Linked DNA regions of Homo sapiens. The protein of the gene in region 1 interacts with the protein of each later gene in a pairwise test. Each region holds a gene or a part of one and is shown in the gene's direction. Other genes may lie near its edges.

Region 1 (4,849 bases):
GCAATTCCCCATTAATACTGAGGGATGACTAATCTTGTATCATTAAGTAGTATGGGTCAGCAATATTTATTCAAAAGTATTAGTTAAGTACCTCCTATGGGAACATCGTCCACTTGTATATCTGCTGCAGTGCCTAGTATGCTGCAACTGCTATGTAAGTACTCACTGAATTGAATTATTTGTTTAACCACAAAAAACAAAGTGTGCCTGAGTTCGAATCCTATCCCCACCACTTATCAGTTGTGTGATCTGGAACAACTTACTTAACTTCTCTGCTTTCATTTCCTCATATGTAAGATGGAAAATAATAATACTATCAGAATTGATGGGAGTATTAAACCAGTAATATTTATAAAGCATGTAGAATAGAGCTCTGTACATAATAAGTATTATATAAACAATCTTATTGTTAATAGTGTAGTTCTTTGGATATTTGGATATTAAGATTTTTTAAATTCAAGTTTGCCCCAGTGATTGCGAATCTTTTTGTATATGTAATTGCAGTTTATGATGTCTCTGGAGCAGCAAGTGACAGAAATTGTGTGGTTCTCAGTGATATTCACATCGACATCATGGACTATATCCAGCCTGCAACTTGCACTGATGCAGAATTCCGTCAGATGTGGGCCGAATTTGAATGGGAAAACAAAGTTAGTCCTTGGGAGATTTTCTCATATTCCTTTATCTTTCTTCCTTTTGCCTGCTGTTGAGGAGTCTGCTAATAAAATTAATCTCGCTAAAAAGTGTTTAACATGAAAAGCAAATAGTCTTTCAGTATCTGTTCTTGCAAATTAGCCTTAACTAAAAATCATGTAAGTAGTTTGGTAATTTGCTGTTATAAATTGATTAGAGTAGCAGTTCTATAGCCAATCTGATAGGTTTAGACATTATAGGTAATATTCCATCCCTTCTATGTATGACCAAGAGCTTACCATTTAATCTAGTGCCCGAAAAAGGCTTTACAAAGTTCATGGTCTGTTGAGGAACTTTGTCCCTTTGAGCCTTGACTTTTATTAGAAATATTCTATATGAGGCTGGGCACGGTAGCTCGTGCCTGTAATCCCAGCACTTTGGGAGGCTGAGGCAGGCAGATTGCTCGTGCTCAGGAGTTCTAGACCAGCCTGAGCAAAATGGTGAAACTCCATCTCTACAAAAAATACAAAAATTAGCCCGGTGTGGTAGTCCCAGCTACTCCGGAGACTGAGGTGGGAGGATCACTTGAACATGGGAGGTTGAGGCTGCAGTGAGCTGAAATGACGCACTGCACTCTAGCCTGGGTGACAGAGTGAGACCCTGTCTCAAAAAAAAAAAGAAATATTCTATATGCTTCATATTGAATCTCTGTGAAGTTATCTCTATTGGGAAGTACTGATACCAACCTACAGCTTGTTGGATTTTATAGATGTTATTTAGTTTCTTGGTGTCTACTCTTTCCAACCTAAACAGTTGGAACAAGTTTTTAATATGACATACTGGTGATTCACAGCTTTCTCATAGTAAGATTTATGATCTCCTTGACTTTTTTTTCCTCTCTACAGGTGACAGTTAACACCAACATGGTTGATTTAAATGACTACTTACAGCACATATTAAAGTCAACCAATATGAAATGCCTGACTCCAGAAAAGGTAAAATTTGACTAGGAAATTCAGAAATCTGATGGAATGGTAGAGTAGGTTCCTGGCCTTCCTGTATTTCCTCTAGCACATTTTTGTTATTCAATATGCAGTACCATTCTAGGCTATCTAAAAGATGTTATCCCATAGAATGTTGGAATCTGCTTACCTCTTTCTATTGGACTATACCATCCTACTTTTTCCTAGTGCAGTGACCCAACTGAATAGTCAGATTAATTTTTTTTTTATTTTCTTTTCAATCTTCTCCCCCATTCAGCTAGAGGCACATTCTAAAGTAGTTTATGCTGCACATGGTGGTTCATTCCTGTGATCCTAGCACTTTGAGAGGCTGAGGCGGGCAGATCACTTGAGGTCAGGAGTTTGAGACCAGCCTGGCCAATATGGCGAAACCCCATCTCTACTAAAAATACAAAAATTACCCAGGTGTGGTGGCACGTGCCTGTAATCCCAGCTACTTGGGAGGTTGAGGCAGGAGAATCACCTGAACCCCAGGGGGTGGAGGTTGCAGTGAGCCGAGATCACACCACTGCATTCCAGCGTGGGTGACAGAGTGAAACTCTGTCTCAAAAAGATAAATAAAATCGTTTATTTGTAATACTGGATTAGAAAATGTCCATGAGCTCTTCCGTGGGCTCTGATTGTTGGTTAAAATATATGTGCTCAAATACAGAATCGTTGTTATACTGTGACTTTTTGCTATGTTTGTGTATGTATGAAAAAAACGAGAGAGAAAGAAAAATGAAGCTGGAGCTCTAAGGAACTTTTTTCTTTATGTAAAATTTCTATAATGTTATAATATTCATTTTATAAATAAAATAATGTCTGCTACCAAACAAGTAGGTTTTAATTTATATATTAGTTTATTCAGCATATACTGAGTCCAACAAAAGTAGTCTCTTCCTTCATGGCGCTTAAGGTCTGATATGGGAGGCAGTCAAGCAAGTTAAGTAAACAGAATATATAAATACAAATCGGATTAAGAACTATTTATTTAACATCAGATTTATTGAGGTATAATACACAGTAAAATTCACACTTTTTACATGTATAGTTGAGTTTTGACAAACTCATAAGATTATGTAACCACCACCCTGTATGTAAGTACTGTTTTAAGTGATAAATAACCAATGGGGCTGGGCGTGGTGGCTCACACCTGCAGTCCCAGCATTTTGGGAGGCCGAGGCGGGTGGATCACTTGAGGTCAGGAGTTCAAGACCAGCCTGGCCAACATGGTGAAACCCTGTCTCTACTAAAATTACAAAAATTAGCCAGGTGTGGTGGCGAATGCCTGTAATCCCAGCTACTTGGGAGGCTGAGGCAGGAGAATCGCCTGAACCTGGGAGGAAGGTTGCAGTGAGCCGAGATCACGCCACTGCACTCCAGCTCCAAGCTGGACAACAGAGTGAGACTCTGTCTCAAAAAAAAAAAAAAAAAAGTCACCTATGCTGTTTGGTTTTTGCCTCTATGTAGGTATCTGGTAAAGTAATGAATTTATCACAAATTTTTTCCAGGCCCTTTCTGGTTACTGTGGCTTTATGGCAGCCAACCTTTATGCTCGTTCCATATTTGGTGAAGATGCACTTGCAAATGTCAGCATTGAGAAGCCAATTCACCAGGGACCAGATGCTGCTGTTACCGGCCATATAAGAATTCGTGCAAAGAGCCAGGTAACAGTTCCTTTTTTTTTGAGAGTATCTCTGGACTGACAAAGGGGGGAGGAATTTATGACTTTATTATTTCTATATGTAGTATCTTTTTAGCATTAGATGCATATACACATACAATAATAATATACTCTGAATAGAAGTATAACTTTTCTCATTAAAATTTCTCACCTTTTGGGCCCCTCATTCTGGGATATTTGCCTAAAACCAGATTGATTCCTATGGGGTGTTTGTGAAATGGGTTCTCTAGAATTTTTTGAAAGCCAAGGTGTAAATCTAGTGACTAATTAGCTGGGTGTTGTAGCGCACACCCGGTAATCCCAGCTACTCGGGAGGCTGAGGCAGGAGAATTGCTTGAACCCGGGAGGTGGAGGTTGCAGTGAGCTGAGATTGTGCCATTTCACTCCAACCTGGGTGACAGAATGAGACTTCGTCTCAAAAAAAAAAAAAAAAAAAAAAATCTGGTGACGGCTTGAAAAATCTAGCACTGAAAGGTAATTACCAGTAAAGTTTGGTAAGTCTGTTTGGTATGTCCTTGATTTTATTGTTGATAATGGTGTCATTGAATTGAATTGGGGCTTAATAATATGGAATAACCTACTGATTGTACATAGTTTAAATAATTATAAATATCTTAATTTTTCTTTACAGGGAATGGCCTTAAGTCTTGGAGATAAAATCAACTTGTCACAGAAGAAAACTAGTATATAAAAATAAACAAAAAGTCCTTGAAGCTTTACAGTTAATTTAGGTATGGGCTTACTGGACTCCAACATCTTTTGTACTCTTTCATGCTTATATAGAATCTGAGTTCATGCTGAATACTTTTCAGCCAATAATTTATAGCCTTTCCCTTAAATCAAGATTGAGTTTAAAATTATAGTTTGTCTTTTGTCTTAACAGTTCTGAATGCTGTCCTCAAAGTATATAATGTTTCATGTACCAAGACCCTTTTCACAGTACAATAAACAGATCTATTCATAAATTTTTGTTATTTTATAAATAAATGATTACATAATTTTAGTTATATGGCAATGGATTTCTTTTAGTTGGGTTATAAATTTCTATTATAAATTTAAATTACTGAGTTGTGAATATATGCAGCTTTATTAAGAGAATTTACAAATTCAATGATATAAAATAAGGTAGGCCTTGATTCACTTGGTTGTTTTTTACTTATTTAATATTCCAACATTGCTATCTCTAAAAATGCATTATCATGTTTTGAAGGGATTTGCTCTTGAATTTAGCTCCAGGGAGAAAGTATCAAAATAACTTTTTTTTTTTTTTTTGAGATGGAGTCTGGCTCTGTCACCCAGGCTGGAGTGCAGTGGCGTGATCTTGGCTCACTGCAAGCTCCACCTCCCGGGTTTACACCATTCTCCTGCCTCAGCCTCCCAAGTAGCTGGGACTACAGGTGCCCGCCACCACGCCTGGCTAATTTTTTGTATTTTTAGTAGAGACGGGCTTTCACCATGTTGGCCAGGATGGTCTCGATCTCCTGACCTCGTGATCCGCCCGCCTCAGCCTCCCGGAGTGTTGGGATTA
Region 2 (6,718 bases), on another chromosome or scaffold:
ACTGATCATCGGGAGTAAGGAGAGAAAAGAAATAGTCTGTGGTCTCTGTGTGCTGGCCTTCTCCCCTTATTTTGTAGAGAGCAAGCACTGGCTCTACGAAAAAGCCCTATTTCCCTGGCATTGCTGGGGAGCAGAAGATGGGTTGCTCTGACACTGTATTCTCCTGTGACCAATAGCCTGTGTTGTCACAGCTTTACCAATAATAGGTCCCCTTGCTGGAGAGCCACTTCACAGCTTTCCCTGTTGAATTCAGGTCAGGTCTCCACTTCTTACTTTAACCCAATCTTTTACGGTTCTCCAGTCTGCTTGCAAACTCCTAGAATCAATTACATATTTATAAGTACTGTGCATATTTTATATTTTCTACATTTGATGTGATTTTTGTTGGTATTCTGTTTCGTATTTTCAACTCTGATAATAACATTTCTCATAAAGAAGACTATCCTTACAACATGTCTTCATTTAGAAAAAGTATTGCTGTAGATGAAATTCAGTGAGTTTCAATTTGATGATTTTGTATTAAAATGCATTTCTTTAGGCATCAATATTGCAGTAACAATTATTGATGTGTTACAATAACAAATGTTGACATTATTGACATATTGACATTGATACTTTAATTAAGCAGTACGTTTAAGTAAATAGTTTTAAACATCTGAGTGTGAATTCCAGCATTGTGATATTTCTCTTTAGCCTAGAACAAGTTACTCAAACTCTCCAAGCCTGTTCTTTCATCCCTTAAATGAAGATAATAATAGCCTTGCGAGTTGTTAAGATTAGTATTTATAACATGCCTGGTTATAAATGTTATGAGAGTGTGCTCATAAATTCTGGTAGTGTCATTGTTCTTGGTAATTATTACAAGTTAGCATTAGTAAACTTCATGTGTGTATTCTATGGCCTAAAAATAGTCTGCTTATAAAATTGGTGCTTTATATCAGCAGTCCCCAACCTTTTTGGCACCAGGGACCAGTTTTGTGGAAGACAGTTTTTCCATGGGCCTGTGGGGGCTTGGTGGATGGTTTCAGGATGAAACTGTTCCACCTCAGATCATCAGGTATTAGTTAGATTCTCATAAGGCAGACAGCCTAGATCCCTTGCATGTGCATTTCACAATAGTGTTCACCCTCCTGTGAGAATCTAATTCCACTGCTGATCTGACAGGAGGTGGAGCTCAGGCAGTAATGCTCCCTTGCCTGCTGCTCATCTCTTGCTGTGCGGCCCAGTTCCTAAAAGGCCACTGACTGGTACCAGTCTGCGGCTCAGTGACTGGGGACCCCTGCTTTATATCGTGTTTTAAACTATTTACTAACAATTAAGAGGTGGTATATCACGTGGTGATTAAGAACATAGACTCTGGGTCCAAATTTCAGCTCCATGACTTATGGCCAGGCTGACCATCGACAAGTTACCTAAATGCCTTGTGCATCACTTTCCTCAGCTTTGAAATGAACATAACAGTAGCACATTTATCTCAGGGATATTATGAGGAGTCAATCAGATTAAGTATATAAAAAGTATAAAACAGTTGCTGACACTTAATGCTGGCTGTCAGCTTCTGCCATTGTTATTGTTGCTATTATTAATTTGTTGTTGAGTAAATTTTTTTTTAAATCACTTTTTAGGTGAATCTTGGAAGCAACCAGTACCTTTTCTCTGTCATAGTGGATCCTAAAGAAATGCCCTGCTTCTGTTTGCGCCATGATGTTGATGCCCTACTCTGGCAACCACACTCCAGCAAACAAGATGATATGTGGGAGCACATCGCAACTTTCAATGCTTTAGGTATAAAGCAAACTCTTTGACATTTTCCATGAAATCAGAAATACAGTCATCATTCATTTAAAGTTCATTTCTTTTTTTTCTTTTTAATTTGAGCTGTCCTGATTACATTTAGATTGATTTGCGCTATGATTTGTTTGCTTGTACTAGTTGTGAGTGTTAGCACTGTTGGAACATTTAGACTAATCTGTTTTTATGCTTGTACAGAAGATCAACACAGAATAGAAATGAAAGTGGTTATCTAACCACTTGAATTATTCTAATAAGTCATTTGCTTTTTCTAATTCTGTAAGCCATATAATACTGGAGTCTGAGCAAGGAGCTTGATAATACCCTACATGGAACTGGTGTTCAAGTTTCTTCAGAGTAATCTTCAGAAACATCATAGAATTCCCCTAAGGTGTAATGCACATTAGGAGACATCTTTTGTCAAAATTAAGTACAAAAGAGAGCCATTATAATGAAAATACTTATGGAAAGCGGTGATAAGCAGAAATTAAATTTATTTGGTAGGATAAAAGGAAAAAAATCAGTTTTAAAATTAGGGCTTGACAATGTTTAAACTACTTAATTATAGACGTATGCAATCATTGATTTTCTGTCAAAATGCATTAGTATTGTGTGACAGAAATTTTTTATGTGAATTAGCCACAGTTGTTGCTTTATTGAAAGGTTATTTTAAACAGGCAGCAAGAAGTGAAGTTACGTATTTTGATGGCTATATGTGCACAACCCTAATTGTAGAAGAAATTTATTAATTATCCCTTATAGTTAATAATGTAGGCTGCTAAACTGGTTCAGACTCCAAATGGATTTTTATGACCTGAAGTACAAAGTTTGGTTAACTAATTTAACCATATAATTTTTAGCCTCCCTACTATAATGCTATTTTTTAATTATCTATACTTTGGTCAGAAGAAAGCTCTATCATATCATCTTTAGATGCTCAGATGTTCTATTTGTATCCCCAAATCCCCTATTATAGGGGAATTCTATGCTTAATTCTAAGTTAAATCAACATATATTAGATATGTACTCTTGAAATATTATATACATTATTCTGTCAAGGTTAGCCTGGATAGCTACTTTAAACTATTTAAATAGGTATCTAAATCTTCACTTTTCCTGCTTCAAACCTGCTTAATATTTTTAAAAACAGTATTGATCTGCATGTGCTCAGTAGTTCCTTTGCTTATTCATTGTTTGATGAGATCTCAATTTTAATTAATGTTATATTCTTATTTTACATGATCATAAATACCTAACATTTGCTAACCATGTCACTATCTAAAAATCATAATTTATATTTTGGAATATAAATGTTGTTTTAATCCAAAAAGATACTTTTTAAACATGTACATGAATTAAGATAAGGATTTTTTTCAGTTTAGAGACTTGAAATTATTTTTGAAGTTATAGTGATCAACATTCTACTTGTGGGGGCTAAAAGTACAAAAAAATCCAGTTACAGTGTTGGTATTGATGTATAAAAATATCACTAACATTTTAGGGATAATAAGAGAATGCATCACGAATACTAGTACATTCAGGGATACATTATGAACAGAAAACTAAAATAACTTTATGATGGTATCCTATACACATTTTCCAATTTATTTAAGAGGAAAAAAATGGTTCTGTGATGCCCTATCCGTAACTCACGAAGCTAAATATTAAATTGGCACTTAAAGATATTTTGTCATGTATTGAGTGTTTTAGATTTTAGAATTTTAGTGTTCGAATTATTCGTGGAAATTAAATGAAGCTATATTACGCTTTTTTTGAAGCGAGAAAGCCATATCTGTTTTGTTCCTTAGGAATTAAAGTCGTATTTTTGTACCAGATGGGAGAGACTGATTGTGGCTAATCGTTAATGATTCAGAATTATATACCTTATGGTATATATTTTACTTGGGCATTTTAATTTGTAATAAACATTGCAAAATATTAAATGTTAAATCATCATTTTTCCCCTTCTGTTTAATATATAGTTTTTCTTTTGTTTGTCTCATATTCTTGGCAGGCTATGTCCAAGCATCAAAGAGAGACAAAAAATTTTTTGCCTGTGCTCCAAATTACTCGTATGCAGCCCTTTGTGAGTGCCTTCGTCGAGTATTCATCTATCGTCAGCCTGCTCCCATGTCCACTGTACTTTACAACAGAAAGGAAGGCAGGCAAGTAGGACAGGTTGCTAAGCAGCAAGTAGCAAGCCTAGAAACCAATGATCCTATTTTAGGATTTCAGGCAACAAATGAGAGATTATTTGTTCTTACTACCAAAAACCTCTTTTTAATAAAAGTAAATACAGAGAATTAATTATTCTAACATATTGGCCTCTTTGTACTGGAAAAGTATTCAGTGGTACCTGGAGGTCTGGACAGTTATACTGTAACCTCTTAAGTTTTAATGTGCTAAATATATCTTGTATGATTTTTTATTTTTTAATAACATTGGAAATATATTCAAGAGATTATGATTCTGTAAAGCTGTGGAATGAAGCTGCAGATTTAGAGAACATTGGCTTCTGAAAAAAAAAAAGAGTGAAGATAGTACTAGCAAGTATACTTATTTTTTAAAACAGGCTAGAATCTCATGTTTTATATGAAAGATGTACAATTCAGTGTTTAAAAATAAAAATATTTATTGTGTACTCTGTTCGTTGATTAGTTGCTACAGGCTGTACCTATAAGATGTACAGGATAATAGTTAAATGTTGAGTATTGTACATATGTATTTAAGTGGATTGAATAACTGAGTCTACATGGAGGAGGAAATGCTAGAGAACAGCAGGTCTAATATTTTTTAAGTTTACTGAGAGACCTTTATTATTATTTTCAAATTAAGTATAGCTTTATGTAACTTTTAGCCAGTTGCTCTGCCACAGACATAGACAAAGAGAGATAAGATTTCACATTATCCATCACTGCATAACAAACCACACCAAAACTCAGTGGTTTAAAACAAGGACTTTTATTATTTTTCACGATTCAGTGAGTTGGCTGTCTCTGCTGTACAGGGCCTCTCAGCCTCCAGTAGACTAGACGAATCTTCTTTCCATAGTAGAGAAAACATCTTAAGAGAGCAAGCTCCAATATGCAAGAGCTTATCGATCCTGTACATCTATCATATTTACTAATGTTCCATTGGACAAAGCAAATCACATGGCCAAGTCTAGAGTCAGAATGAGGGGACTACACAAGCTGACAGCGGATGGTATGACTCATTGGGGGCCATTGATGGAACAATCTTACCACACAAGGACAAATTATAATTTATCCTTGTGGCTCTCTTTATTTTTCTAACAACTTCAACAAAATAATCCTGTTTATATGTTATAGTTTCTTGCCACAAATTTTGTTTTTTCAAACTTACCTTTCCAGGTTTGTTTTAGTATGTATGTACCTGGAAATTTTTATTACTTTTTATACCATTTCAAGATATGTATCTTATATAAACCTCAAGTTGGATTTTATATTTTAATAAGGAAGTTAAGACCTTCATTTAAGAGGCAGAAGATTAAGATAAGAAATATAAGATAGAAAAGCTTTGTTCCTAACATATCTTTTGCCTGTCTGGGCAAGTATTTGACTCAACTAAATTTTAATGAACGAATGAATGACAGAGAGGAGGAAAAAAGATGAGGATTGCATACATGTTCTAAACCCTTTGTCAGATTGCAGTTTCCTAGAGAGTATTGAGGTGCTAGGTAGAAAGTTAGGAAAGGTCCTGAGGACTGGTATTGACAATTGGAGTCCTAATAGTACTCTATTCGTATTAGGAAAGAGAGACTAGATACCAAACATCACGAGATCATAGAGATGGAAAACTGTATAGTAACCAAAAACCAAAACAGTGATATTTCCAGAACTTTTTAGTATTGTTGTAAAACTTCATGAAACAAAAGACCATTTAAATAGTGAATTATTAAAAATCTTTATGATGGGAAAGTAGATCTAAATTTTCTCTAAAATTTTCCCCAAAGATAATATCCTCTTAGGGAACATAAGAAAAATGTATAATAAAAATGTGGTGCTTAATTAACCATGACTATGTATATATTGCCAATTTTAGTAATCAATATTCTTTGTGCATGTGATTTTTTTGCATGATTAATGTTGAATTGAAAGCTCTCAGGATAATTAATCCTAAATATTGTCGCATGTTGACCTACGTTAAAAGATGAATAGGTCTAGAGCCGTGATTTCAAGCTATTTTCCTGAAATGCTTCAGGGATTCCATAAACATTTAAACAATGTTCTAAGGTACATATACTTAGAACATTGAGATATATACTACAAGTGCTAAGAATATAGTACCTTGTATTTTTGTTGATTTTTATCATGTTTTAAATAGGAATTTATAAAATATTTATGATAGTAATAAAGTAGTATTTTATGTGTTTTGCATATTAAGAGTCATTAACAATATTCACTCTTTTAACACATTTAAGCATCAACTATGTACCTTAGCATGATTTTTTCAGTATTAAGGATAATATATTACTAAGGATAAAGAGACAATCTACATTTTAATGATTTTCAGATAAAATTTCTTTTTAGGGAAAAAAAGAGGAGAGGGTGGCATAGAGTGGTTGCTTTCCTGCTAAGGAAGTCTGACCAGGGCTAGAACCTTGGGGACTACCCACAAGAGTCAGGTAGAGGAGTTGCCAATGGGAAGAGTTAGAAAAAAGAATCAGAGTGTCAAGAAATTAGGAATGGTTAACAATGTTAAAAAAAATACTCTTAAATAAAGTATACTCATCAAATTTCTACATAAAAGGGAAATGACTGTACAGAACAAGTTAAACCATCATTACACAGGAATTTCTAATATTTTGTGTTATTAACTATAGAAAAGAACAGATGGTAAGTTTATGTGTGGCAAGTCATATAAGAAGGCAAAACTGATACTTATCACTGATTATTACTGGAAGAAT

Evidence for each region.
Region 2: the proteins of COPB1 (region 1) and NUDCD1 interact in binary tests that used the Homo sapiens proteins (3 or more experiments, as listed by UniProt).

What each region holds. Positions count from the first base shown.
Region 1 is NC_000011.10:14,456,987-14,461,835, reverse strand, and holds the end of COPB1 (coatomer subunit beta), read left to right. Parts: intron 1-504; coding exon 505-650; intron 651-1,538; coding exon 1,539-1,628; intron 1,629-3,148; coding exon 3,149-3,304; intron 3,305-3,952; coding exon 3,953-4,012; 3' UTR 4,013-4,324; downstream 4,325-4,849. UniProt on the Homo sapiens protein: The coatomer is a cytosolic protein complex that binds to dilysine motifs and reversibly associates with Golgi non-clathrin-coated vesicles, which further mediate biosynthetic protein transport from the ER, via the Golgi up to the trans Golgi network.
Region 2 is NC_000008.11:109,240,389-109,247,106, reverse strand, and holds the end of NUDCD1 (nudC domain-containing protein 1), read left to right. Parts: intron 1-1,625; coding exon 1,626-1,785; intron 1,786-3,805; coding exon 3,806-4,098; 3' UTR 4,099-6,188; downstream 6,189-6,718.